2 linked regions of the Homo sapiens genome follow. The protein of the gene in region 1 interacts with the protein of each later gene in a pairwise test. Each region holds a gene or a part of one and is shown in the gene's direction. Other genes may lie near its edges.

The links. The genes of interacting proteins can lie anywhere in the genome.
Region 2: the proteins of ZNF165 (region 1) and FAM124A interact in a two-hybrid assay, tested with the Homo sapiens proteins (2 studies listed by BioGRID and IntAct).

Annotation. Positions count from the first base shown.
Region 1 is NC_000006.12:28,083,563-28,090,087, forward strand, and holds the end of ZNF165 (zinc finger protein 165), read left to right. Parts: intron 1-1,918; coding exon 1,919-2,329; intron 2,330-2,609; coding exon 2,610-2,748; exon of another isoform or gene 2,749-2,796; coding exon of another isoform or gene 2,797-2,824; intron 2,825-5,000; coding exon 5,001-5,908; 3' UTR 5,909-6,001; downstream 6,002-6,525. UniProt on the Homo sapiens protein: May be involved in transcriptional regulation.
Region 2 is NC_000013.11:51,225,382-51,232,410, forward strand, and holds part of FAM124A (protein FAM124A), read left to right. Parts: intron 1-5,966; coding exon 5,967-5,998; intron 5,999-7,029.

The DNA of each region.
Region 1 (6,525 bases):
GCTTAGACTATGCAGTCCAACCCTAGCCAATAGGGGAACGACATAGCAGTAGGGACTACCTGCGTCAGAGATAAGAACCCCTTCCTCTCCCTTGATCAGGTATGCTCTCACCATTGCTCCATCTGCGAGACACACCTTTCTATAGAAGCAAAATTGCCTTGATGAGAAAATTCATGTTCGAGTGCTATTTCTTTTGCTGCACCGAAAATTTATTTCTAATACCCACCACCTCTAGGAAATACCTTCTACCATTCACAGTCTCTTCCCACCTCAGGACCGTTAGAACATTCAGTATCTCCACCATAAACTCATTTTATACTTCAACATTCAACATTTAACAAACATGTACAATGTATATGTCATGTGAAACGTTTTCTCATTTAAATCTTTTGTATCCATGTTTTATAATTTCTTCCCAACTAGTTCTTCCCACTGAATTTATTTCTTTCTCTCCCGCATCCTTGTCAAATCTTTTCTATTCTTCAAACTCAAAGACTTTTTGTTTAATCCATTAAGCTGTATATTAGAATACAGATTTTCCAGGCATATACTATACTGACCAAGTTACCATCTCTAGGAGCAGGCCCCTAGTCTGCATCTCCAGAGGTAGGGCCCAAGAACCTGTTTCTACCAAAGATCCCATATGATGATTAGGCAGCAAGCCCAGTGTCATATTCAGACTTTCTTGTAAACCATTGCTGTACAACTTCTAGCCCAATGCTTTGCTTGTGATAAGATTCTTAATAAAATGTGTGTTATTGCATCAGTCAGTAGTCAACTTAGTGAAATGTTTAGTAAAAGAACCTCAGGCCGGGCACGGTGGCTCACACCTGTAATCCCAGCAATTTGGGAGGCTGAGATGGGCAGTGGGCAGATCACAAGGTCAGGAGTTTGAGACCAGCTTGGCCAACATGGTGAAACCACATCTCTACTAAAAATACAAAAAATTAGCCAGGTGTGGCGGTGTGCATCTGAAATCCTAGCTACTCAGGAGGCTGAGGAAGGAGAATCACTTGAACCTGGGAGGCGGAGGTTGCAGTGAGCCGAGATCGCGCCATTGCACTCCAGCCTGGGTGATAGAGTAAGACTCCCTCTCAAAAAACAAAAAAAAGAACCTCATACTTGCATGAATACAGTGGCCTCTATCTTTTCATATTGCCACCCACCCTAGAAATGAAGAACATATTCATCTCCACAGTGTTTAGCAGGTCATTCTGCTCAGAAGAATTGACTCCTCTTCAGTGACTCCCCAGTGCCTAAAAGATAAACTCCAAATTCATGAACTTCACAGTTGATGTTTTCTACAATAACATCTCCAAGCTTTGCCTCTATAATTTTCTTATACAAACCTACTAAACGTTTTGCTTTCCCTCTTCTGTATTCCTACTCTTACCCAATTGTTCAGACTGTTTCTCTGTTCGTAATTTCCTATTTCTTTCCCTCCCACATCCTAGTCAAATCTTTTCTATTCTTCAGAATTTCATGTTTGCATTAAGCTTCCCTTGACCATTGCAACCATCTGTATTTTTCTCATCTCCTATTTTATGAAGCACTTCTATCATTTTTCTTTTTTATCCTTATTTTCTCTGTGACTTTTAAAATTTAATAACATGTACATTGTTAATATTTAGCATTACATTTAAGTTTATTGTTTCTAATTTATCTTATTTTTAAATTTAAAAATTAAGCTATCTTGAAGTAGAAATCATTAACAGTTGTATTCTAGAAACCAAGTATGTCAGTGCTTTTGCATATAGTAAATGCCCAGTAAATTTTTGTGTAATGGAGAATGACGATTTTTATTATGTGGTCTTTCATCTTCTTAGACAGTAATAGTAACTTTTGATCCCTCAGGAGGACTCTTGAAACTAAAGAAGACCCTTTCCAAAGCAGTTCTGATAATATATTCTATCCACAGATGGCTACAGAACCAAAGAAAGCTGCAGCCCAGAACTCTCCAGAGGATGAAGGACTTCTGATAGTGAAGATAGAAGAGGAAGAATTTATCCATGGGCAGGACACTTGCTTACAGAGAAGTGAACTCCTTAAGCAGGAGCTCTGCAGGCAGCTTTTTAGGCAGTTCTGCTACCAGGATTCTCCTGGACCTCGCGAGGCACTGAGCCGCCTCCGGGAGCTCTGCTGTCAGTGGCTGAAGCCAGAGATCCATACCAAGGAACAGATTCTGGAACTGCTGGTGCTAGAGCAGTTCCTGACCATCCTGCCAGGAGATTTGCAGGCCTGGGTACATGAACATTACCCAGAGAGTGGAGAGGAGGCAGTGACCATACTAGAAGATTTGGAGAGAGGCACTGATGAAGCAGTACTCCAGGTGCACAGGGGATGGGAGATCTAAGACCTCCATAATGGATAAAGTTCCACGGTGGGAGGAGAGGCCCGAGATTGCATATCTAGCTTGCAGGAGCTGTTGGTTCAGTGTGCATTTATGTCTCCTTTCCTGTCTGTTTGATTCCACACTACATTTTACAATTAAATCAGACTCGATTCTTCCTTCCCCAGTTTTGCATTTCTATGGGAGTTTCTCTTTGTTGTTAGAAGACGTTTAACACAGGGATTCTTTTATAAGCCCAAATGTACTTTATTTTTCTCAGGTTCAAGCCCATGAACATGGACAAGAAATATTCCAGAAAAAAGTGTCACCTCCTGGACCAGCACTTAATGTCAAGTTACAGCCAGTGGAGACCAAGGCCCATTTTGATTCATCAGAACCCCAGCTCCTATGGGACTGTGGTGAGGGGCAGAATGCCATATAGTGCACATCACTAAAGAAACAGGGGAATGAATCTCCCTCCACAAACTAGTCTTGGTAACTGTAGATGGTCCTTTCCTTTATTACCCAATGAAAAGAGAGAACTTGTGGCCAGGTGCGGTGGCTCACTCCTGTAATCCCAGCACTTTGGGAGGCCAAGGCAGGTGGATCACGAGGTCAGGAGATCAAGACCATCCTGGCTAACATGGTGAAACCCCATCTCTACTAAAAATACAAAAAATTAGCCGTAGCACCTGTAGTCCCAGCTACTCGGAAGGCTGAGGCAGGAGAATGGCGTGAACCTGGGAGGCGGAGCTTGCAGTGAGCTGAGACTGCGCCACTGCACTCCAGCCTGGGCGACAGAGCAAGACTCCATCTCATAAAGGAAAAAAAAAAGAGAGAGAGAACTTGTTTTCCTGTGAGTCTTTGGCCAATGGTAGGGGAAAAGATAATTTTGTTCCTTATCCAGAATATTTCCAAAACACAGAACATTTTTATGATATGACCAAATTAAAGGAAATAAAAGTGAATGAGTTGAGAAAATATCATGAAAAGAGAAAAGAAGGAAAAGAAAAAGAAATACATGGACAGAAGCAAAATATGTTCATAGAGAAGTACATATAATGATCAAGAGAAACAGATACATGATGATATACTGAGAAATAGTATATAATTCACAAGTAACATAGACCGTGATCCATATTTTTCCTGTTATGCTCTTGGTCTTATAAAGCTCTTTTACACTTTTATAGAAAGTTAGCTATAGTTCTAGAGACTACTTCCACAGAATACTCATCTCTGTTCTAAAACTCATCTATTTAAAAGATTCATAGATGCAGTATCACTTAAGGTGTGAATTGTCCCTATAGTAAACCCAAGAATAACTTACCGTTAATTTTTTGGTTTGTTTGTTTTGTTTTGTTTTGTTTTTCCTGACACAGAGTCTTGCTCTGTCACCTAGGCTGGAGTGCAGTGGCGTGATCTCAGCTCACTGCAACCTCCACCTCCTGGGTTCAAGCAATTATCCTGCCTCAGCCTCCCGAGTAGCTGAGATTACATGTGCCTGCCACCATGCCCGGCTAATTTTTGTATTTTTAGTAGAGACGGGGTTTCACCATGTTGGCCAGGCTGGTCTCAAACTCCTGACTTCGTGATCCGCCCGCCTTGGCCTCCCAGAGTGCTGGGATTACAGACATGAGCCACGGAGCCTGGCCACAATTAATTTTTAATAAATTTCTACATATTCTGCCTTCAGTTTTGTTCTGGAAACATCTCCATCTGTCGTATATAAAATTGTAAATTTCCCTCACCCCATGAACAGCACTCCCTAACCCTCTTTCCTGCCCTAGCGTATTGTAGACAAAGGACAGCTTATAATAAAGAAGGGCGGTTCAATTCCAGCACAGTATAGAGTGGGATTTGTGAAGACTGGATCATAAATGGATCTTGGAAACCAGGCTTGGGAATTTAGACTTGAACAAAAAAAGAGAGAGAGAGATTCAAGGTTTTTGAGTAGGGTATGAAAGGATGGCAGTGTTTAATGACCATTAGTCTAGTAAGGATCTTTAGGATAACTAGGAAGAAGAAAAGTGCAGAGTCAAAACAGCAAGGAGGCAGTTAAAGTCTAGATAGGAAATGGTAAGGTTCGAGACTATGGCGATGGTAGCAGAAATATAAAGGAAGGGATTTATACAAGGGACACTTAGTGGACAGTGATGACAGAATTTAGAAGACTGATTAACCATGGAATATGAGGAAGAAATAGACAATAGGTGGATGGAAGTTTTCTCACACATACTTCACAGTCACTTATAGCTTTACTTTTCTCTCTTGTGTTCTCATCTGCTTTCTTTGAGGTAGTGCCTCCATTTTCCCTCTAGAAATGTATCATAGACCCAAGGTTCCCAAGATCTGCTGCAGTCAACATTGTAGAGTTCCTTCTCCGTACTCTATCTCCCCCTATCTCTTGAGTTCTTGCTGATGACAATCCTCCCAATCTTTTCTAATATATATGCTTCACGTCTGATTCCTCTCTCTGCCAACCACTGCAGGCATTACTTGCTCTTACCAATGTTTCTTTCATTCCTATCATCCTCTTTCATTCTATCATTCCTCTCATGTGAAAGGTCATATATTAAAGTGGGCATATCAATATGTAACTATCTTGAGCATGCTATAAAATTTTCTTTTCGTGCAGCAAACAGGTAATATTTCCCTTTCTTTTTTATTTTAGATAATGAGAGTGAAAACAGTAGATCCATGCCAAAGCTGGAAATTTTTGAAAAAATTGAATCACAGAGAATTATATCTGGAAGAATCTCAGGATACATATCAGAAGCATCTGGTGAGTCTCAAGACATCTGTAAGTCTGCAGGCAGGGTAAAGAGACAATGGGAAAAAGAATCAGGGGAGTCTCAGAGACTCTCGTCTGCCCAGGATGAAGGTTTTGGTAAAATCCTCACCCACAAAAATACAGTCAGAGGTGAAATAATAAGCCACGATGGATGTGAGAGGAGATTAAATCTGAACTCAAATGAATTCACACACCAGAAATCTTGTAAACATGGTACCTGTGACCAGAGCTTCAAATGGAACTCAGATTTTATTAACCATCAAATAATTTATGCTGGAGAAAAAAATCACCAATATGGAAAATCTTTCAAGAGCCCAAAACTTGCTAAACATGCAGCAGTTTTCAGTGGAGATAAAACTCATCAGTGTAATGAATGTGGGAAAGCTTTCAGGCACAGCTCAAAACTTGCTAGGCATCAGAGAATCCACACTGGAGAGAGATGCTATGAATGTAATGAATGTGGGAAAAGCTTTGCAGAGAGCTCAGATCTTACTAGACATCGGCGAATTCACACTGGGGAAAGACCCTTTGGTTGCAAAGAATGTGGGAGAGCATTCAACCTGAACTCACATCTTATCAGGCATCAGAGAATTCACACCAGAGAGAAACCCTACGAGTGTAGTGAATGTGGGAAAACCTTCCGAGTGAGCTCACATCTTATTCGACACTTTAGAATTCACACTGGAGAAAAACCCTATGAATGCAGTGAGTGTGGAAGAGCCTTCAGTCAGAGCTCAAACCTTAGTCAACACCAGAGAATTCACATGAGGGAAAACCTATTAATGTAAGGAACTTAAATTTGTAAGTAAATGCTGAGGAAATGGCACAATATGAAAAATATTAAATAAAAAATAAATATTGGGCAAGATGGAAGACTGAAAGACCAGTTTCTGGTGTTCAATCTGTGTGTATGTGCTTTCTGTGAGACTGGGGATGTACCCCTTCTTTCATTGACTACTAAAGTCAAACCAAAAGAGCTACATTTAGGGGGGCTAATAGGGTAGTCTATGGCAGTGCAATGTAGAGAAATAGAGACTGTCTGGGGAAATAATCATGATTACAGTGTGGGAAGAAAAGGAAGATTTAGGTAAAGAGACTGATAATCAGTCCTAGTTTATTTTCCTAGTTAGTTTAGCACAAGAAGAGGTCAGCTAAACCCAGGAGTGAAATAGGTTGCACAGTGCACTGCAGAACAGTGTTTTCAGAGCATCCCTTTAAAAACTGAAGACCACAAAACTAAGATGCTCATGTTAAGTTAGAGAGTAATGTCAAATGAGGACATATGTAATGGTGGCATTCCTATATGAGGCCAAAATCTGTGTCCAGAGGTCATACCAGGAAGTAAAAAACCAGAAGAACACCCCAGGGAAGAGGCCAGAATCCAGACATTTAAGTAAGACAGTAA
Region 2 (7,029 bases), on another chromosome or scaffold:
TTAGTATGTGCCACCTACTGTTCTAAGCCTTTATGTATTTCATGGACTCCTCGAATCCTTCAACAACTCTGTGCAGCAGGTGCTTTTTAAGACCAGCCTTGAGAAACTATATTTAAACGCCCAGTCAATGAGAATGAGCTGATAAAGGAGCCTGAGAAAGAGTAGACTTGGAGTCAAAGAAAGAAGAATATGAATCATTGAAGCCAAGGGAGGTTTGAGTTTTTGAGAAAGGAAGGAGAGATCAACTATGCTACTGAGAAACTAATGAAGATGAGGAACGCTAAATGTCTTTTTTAAATGGAGATGATGAAGTGAAGGAAGAGTGGTATTTCACAGCGGGGTGGTGGAGGCAGGAGCCAGATTAGAGTGGCTCTAGAAGGCAGTAGAAGGTGAAGAAAAGGAGACAGGTGGATTCCTTTGTCTGGAAAAAGGAGAGGCAAAAAGAGGCAGTAGCTAAAGGGGAGAGTGGAGTGAAGAAAGATTTCTTAAATATAGGTGCTAATTGAGCAATCAGTGTGATAGAAAGGATTCTATAGAAGGGGGAAGGAGAAGGAGGAGAAAAGATGATAATCTGTAATGTTGCTTGCTTGCTTTCTTTTTTTTTTTTTTTTTTTTTTTTTTTTTTTTTTTAACAGACAGGTCTCTCTGTCACCCAGGCTGGAGTGCATTGGTGGAATCATGGCTCACTGCAACCTCAAATTCCAAGGCTCAAGTAATCCTCCCACCTCAGCCTCCTAAGTAGCTGGGATTACAGGCCCGCACCACCGACACCATGCCCAGCTAATTTTTTTATTTTTATAAACACAAGGTCCTGCTATGTTGCTCAGAAACTGTCTTAAACTCCTGGCCTCAAGCAGTCCTTCCACCTTGGCCTCCCAAAGCACTAGGATTATAGTTGTGAGCCACTGCTTCTGGCCCTATAGTGTCAGCATTCTGAAAAAGTGGAGGCAGATGGACTTCATACCACAGGGGGATGGATGGCTTTAGGTAGGAGGCAGGACATCCCCTCCTGCAATTAGAAGGGCAGGCAAGATGGGGTTTCTCTTTGGTGTAAATACAGCCCTCCATCATCTGAGGAGAATGGAGATTTGAATAGTTGTTTGGGGCAATGTTGAGTGGGTGCCCAGTTGAAATTTGCAATTACGTATTTAAATAAATAACAAGGGGTACGAGTTCCCGTTGTTATTTATTTTCTCGCAGCAATGCTCAACTACCTAGGGTCAGGCAGAGAGAGAGAGTGGGTAGTTAGGATCATCAGAATTTGGGGTAAGGGGGTGTGAACAAAACACAGAAACAAGGGCTGTCAGGGTATTGCTTAAGCTGATTATCCTTTCAGTGGCATGATGGAAGAAACAGTTCCGAGAAACTTTGTGGGTCCCACTGCCAGTGGCCATGTTGGCCACTTTGAAAGTTACAGTCACAAGAGCCAGCCTGCTTGCATTCATATTCTGGCTCCTCCACTTAGGGACTGTGAAACCTTGATCCAGTGACTTAACCTCTCTCTGCTCTCAGTTTCCTCCTCTGTACAAGAGGGATGACGATAGTAGTACCTACCTTCTAGGGTTGGTGTGAGGATTAAATGAGCATATATATTTAAAGCCCCTAGAACAGTGGCTGTTCAGTGTCTAGAACCCTTAGTACATGATTATTTCTCACCATACTATATTATTATTGTTATGAGGAACACTCCAAATTATAAACTTAGAGTTTTATTTAATAAAAATGGTGAACTCAAGACCATATGTTTTTCAAACTCATCACAATAGATCCTCTGTTGCTTTTAAATACCTTAAGTAATTTGATCATTCAGAGCATCTGAGAGACTACAGGGCATGCCTCACTATTCTAATAATTATATTTTACAGATGAGGAAATGGAGACTCAGAGGGCACATGGCTCGTTAGAGGCATGAATTGAAGCCTGGATCTCCAGTATGCTTCCCACCTAGTGAAGTTGCCTCTCCAGGAGCTGTCTGATCTGTAATTAATTCTTGTTTTCTGCTCAGACATTTTCTTTTGCTTGAAATGCTGCTGCTGCTGTCTCACCCACCTAATACAGGCCAAGACTAAAAGCAAACTAGTATTCTTCTGTAGCAATTGATATCATTTTGAAACTCCCATTTTCCAAATCCACTTGAAAGATGCCTTGTGCTTTTATGTACTTTCTGTTAGCAAAAACTGGCAAGTCGGCTGCTGATGGTGGTAAACTATCTTAAGAAACAGAATCCCTTAAATAGAAGGACAGCCAGTTCCTTGTAAACCCAAATAAAAGCCAGTGCTTTATAATGACTGTTTCATTAGTGATGTCTTCAAGATTTGGCATGTAAGCCACTCTTTTGTATGTGATGGGTTATTTTCATTCAATAGTTTGGTCTGGCATTAATGAACTTCCACTTCCATCTCAGCTGTCACTGAGCTTCTGAACCTGTAGGGCCATACCATGCCCTGTTTCTTTGGAGGACCTCCAATTGATACTTCGCTGTGACTTAAGACATAACAAAAAATCAGGGGTCTAGACTTTAAATAGGTGGGTGGAAAAGAATAGGTGGGATGAATTTTTAAATGGGATAGGTCTTTTAAAAAGATGAAAGGGGAAATGCTGTATAGAAGACCAGATCGTTTGTTAGTACTTTGTTATCTTTGTATTCAAGGTGGAGCTAGTTAACACTAAATTTAATTCAGTGCAATGAGGGTTAACAGAAGAAGTTCATGATGCTCAATAGCTGATGTTTTACAGAAACATCAAGATCAATTTTACAGGAATGCCAAGATCAATTCTTATGCCATGATTTTCCTGGAAAATAATTTATTCTGTATATATGTAGTATATATATATATGTAGTATTCTGTATATATGTAGTATATCATTTGGTAGCTAGGCTGCTGTCTGATAGGGTAAACTGTCTTAAGTACAGAACCTCTATGTAATCCCTATATGTAATATTGTAATTAATATAGACAAGGGACTGCATCTAACTTTCTGTTCATTATTGGCACAAATAGTAAATAATATTTGGAAATGTGTCTATATTTGTCAGGTGTGTGAATGTACATAATTTTTGTATTATTCTGCTCTATATCGTGTATAAATTTTTCATTCTAAATTCACCTTTCATGCTTCATTCTGGCAGGGCTGAATGTCTTATGCATAGCCAGCTAACTAAATTCTTAAAAGGTGAGACCAATAAACAGAAATCTCAAGGCAGCTACCCTACTGCTGTTCCTCTTGCCTAAAAAAAACTTGTCCAGAGTACAGACTTGTCCAGAGAACCCTAATGAAATACCTGGTTATTCTCTGAAATGGTTTGAACCTATTTATTATGTGCAGAATTGTTTCAAGCTTTGTAGTTTGTCTTTCCTAACCGTATTTCTAGTAAATAAGCTTTTGAGGTTATTTGGAATATATTTTAAGAGCTATAAAAGTATTTATACCTCAAATCAGTCTATATTTCCACCCATGATAATTTTTCTAAGGAAAAGAAAATAAATATAAAGCCATATTCATAAATACCTCATTGCCGTGTGTTTTGTAAAGGTGAACAACCAGGAGCGATCATTTAGCCAACAAAAGGGTTGAATAAATTATAGTGTATTAATTTAAAATGATAATTACAGGAAATGTGTAGCAGCATGTTATGATGGTATCAAGTGAAAAGAGCAATTCAAAATTGTGTCTCCATCATTATGGCAACTGTGTACAAATTGCATATACTGAGGATCAGAGGCTGGAGAGCAGTGGGAGGCTGTAGGTGACTTTCTGTGTGTTTCCGTTGTGACGGTGGACCCGGGTGAAAGTTGGACAGCAGAGCTGGGCCATCCGTCACGGAGAGAGGGGTTTGTGTTTTACACTAGCGAGCTTGAATTTCATCCAGAGAGAGACATGATCAGATTTATCCTTTGCAAAGATTGGCTGCTGTATGTGGAGGGAACTGCAGCAGGATCAGCGTGATTGTCAGAAGGCTGACCATTCGGCGGGCCCAACCCGGTGGTGCCCTTAGTCTCTAGAAACGTGGAGGGACTCATAGAGGGGCATCAGTTATGCCAGCACCTGTCCCAAGACACTAAAATACTGTTGCACTTTAAGATTCTTGAACTATGTTTCAAGTGTAAATTTCATTCTACATACATATCCATCTGTATGCAGATCTTTAAAATGTATGCATATGTGAATCCCATCTGCTTCAAGAGAATTTGGAAAATCCTAGCTGAAAATACACATTTTAAAGAATAAAAGAAATAGAAATATCGCCATTCTTATTGTGTGTTGTATTTGAATAGTCATGACATTTCTTTAAAGTCTGTCCATCTTAAGATGATTTTATTGTAATCAAGTTGTTTTCCTGTTGCATCTACCACAGTGGATATTTGCTGAGCAGTCACTAAGTTTATATATAATTACATTTCCAAGTATTGTTCTAAAGTTTATGTCCTGAATGGTTCCAGAAAGAATTTAATGCACCAGTACTGGGTTACAAATCCTGGGCTTCAGAATGTTGCTAATCCTTGACCCTCCCCTCTCTGTTGTCTCCCTTAGCTAGTATGTCACCATGTGCTAGCCAGTCAATCCCTTCTGCCTTCGGAGTCCTTCCTCTCCACCCACCGTGCACACTCAACTTCAGTCACTAATCATTGCTCACCTCCTGGCCTCTGTACAGATAGTATCACTTTAATTTCCTAGTCAATAAAATATTGAATTATATATATATATATGAATGCAGTTTGTAATATATAAAGGGATATGCAAATGTTGGTAGTTGTTATTCTTTCCAGTTTTAAAATTCATTGATTCCATGACTACTAAAGTATTTCATTTGTGAAAGTGAAAACCACATGTTGTTTTCTTCCATTTTGTTCCTCGACCAATAAATCAATGCAGCATTTTGAGTGATGTAGGTTATTTTAATCAGTAAGAGGCATGCTGCTTATGATTTTTTTAAAAAGTTTTGCATGTACTTTTTTAAATGTGGCAAGAAGTTCAATGGAGTGAAAATTGGATGATTCAGGAAAGGCAGCAGGAGACTAAGGAGATAAAAGGAATGTATATCTATAAAATTAAACATAATTAAGCAGTTTATTTGCATAACTTCGTCCCCTAACTTCCATGGCAGAATAAATCCCTACGTGCTAAAGTGATTAATTTCCTACTGAGAATGACTTTGGGACACTAGGGGAAGAAAATAAGTAGCTTCCATATCAAATTTGTTGCCAGAGAGGAAAGTCTTAACAGCTACAGAAGTAGGGCAGAAACTTACTAGAGATTAAGCAGATCCTTGGCCAGAGCCCCACTCTTACGGAGGCTGAATGCCAGCAGCTGATTTCTCAGCATAGAAACTGAAAGGGCGATTTCACCCCAGCCTTAGCCTGCCTTTTCCCTTTCCCGATCACAGCTCACATCCTGTTACTCTAATATCCAGCAGGCTTTCTTCTCAGATGGAACTGAAATCAGTGGAAATATCATTGTGCCTTTGTTTCCTGGTGGTCAGCCCCACCTTGAATGTGGAAACCTTCGCAGCTGAGGTTCCCTCTCTCCTCGCGCTGGGATCCTCTGCTTATGTTAGCAAAGAACATTTCCCCATGGTGTTGTGCGAATATTTGAAGGGTGCTCATTTGCAGTAACCTTTGGAGTGAATCTGTGAGTGGTGAATCTGTTGAAAACTTTGGGGCTTCTCCCCAGAGAAATAACCATTCAATATTTTTGCTAAACCTTTAGATGGCTTCTTCCAAACCTCATCAGAGGAATTTGCAGAACTCACATGAGAGCCCCCAGAATTCTAAAGTTCCTTTAAAGTTTTCTTTCAAATTCAGACATAACTTTATTTTGCATAAAATGAGCCTTAGCACTGCAGTTTTTAATTGGTGACATTTCTTTACCAGCTAAATGCTACTTACCACTGACTGTTTAAAATTCTGGCTTGAATAAATCATTTGGATAAAGAATTCTACTAACGCTGAGGTCTTGTGTTTCAGGTCCGACTACAGCCACCTGTCCTCCACGAGCAGTAAGTATCTTTTAAACATCCTTCAGCATTGTCTAACGGTCCCCGGAGAGGTCAGTACCCTAGAGGCCATGTGTGTACATGGTTTTATAGTAGGTAAGAATCACCAAAGCATCTTTGCCAAAGAATGTGGTACAGGATGCTGTAACTCTGGAAGTGGAGGCTTTTCCTGGAGAATCTGATCATACAGAAATTCAGCCTGAAGGATGTAACCCAGGCTTTATCAGCTGCTTGTGGATGCTTCTAGGAGCATCATCTCTGAAGAATCTGAGGTAGCGCTTTCATTGAACAAACATCTATCAGATACCTGCTACCCTCAGGCAAACAGAAAGCTCAGAGCACAATTCCTGGATCCCTGCAGTTGCTCCAGCTCATCTCTTGCAAAATCTCTTCCCTTGCATGTCTGCATCTGCAGGCAAATATCCTTCCCTCTCCAATGGAGGGAACATCTATCTCTGGCAAAATCCTGCGAAGTGTGTTAACAGTTGGAACAGTTATAGCTAAAGTGGAAAAGTGATAGCTAAATTCCCTAATTATAACCTACATTGGTTATACATGCCAATACATATGTACCAATACGTATGCACATTGATATACATATATATCAGTATGTATAACCGATGTAGGTTGTAATTAGGGAATTTAGCTATTACTTTTCCACTTAAATGTGGCTAAAAGAATACAGACATTTTTATCAATCCATCATCCTGTATTTGTAATTCCTGGCTTATAAGTGGTTATTATATGCAGCAGAAAATGATCAGGAATATGTTTACAAAGACACTCTGGTTATTAAAAAGGTGCTTATATTTAATATTAAAGTACAGGTAAATTTACTCATGAGAAATTATGCCTCATAACTAGAAAGAATTGAGAGTGATTAAGATTACTACATAAATGACCAAAGCCATTCAGATTGATTGAATACTTATTTTAAATTAACAAAAGTAATTGTCTTAATATAAAGGCCCTGATTGTTTAAATCAGTAAATATTAAATTGTTTTGCCCTATCTCACTAGCCTGTTAAACTCTG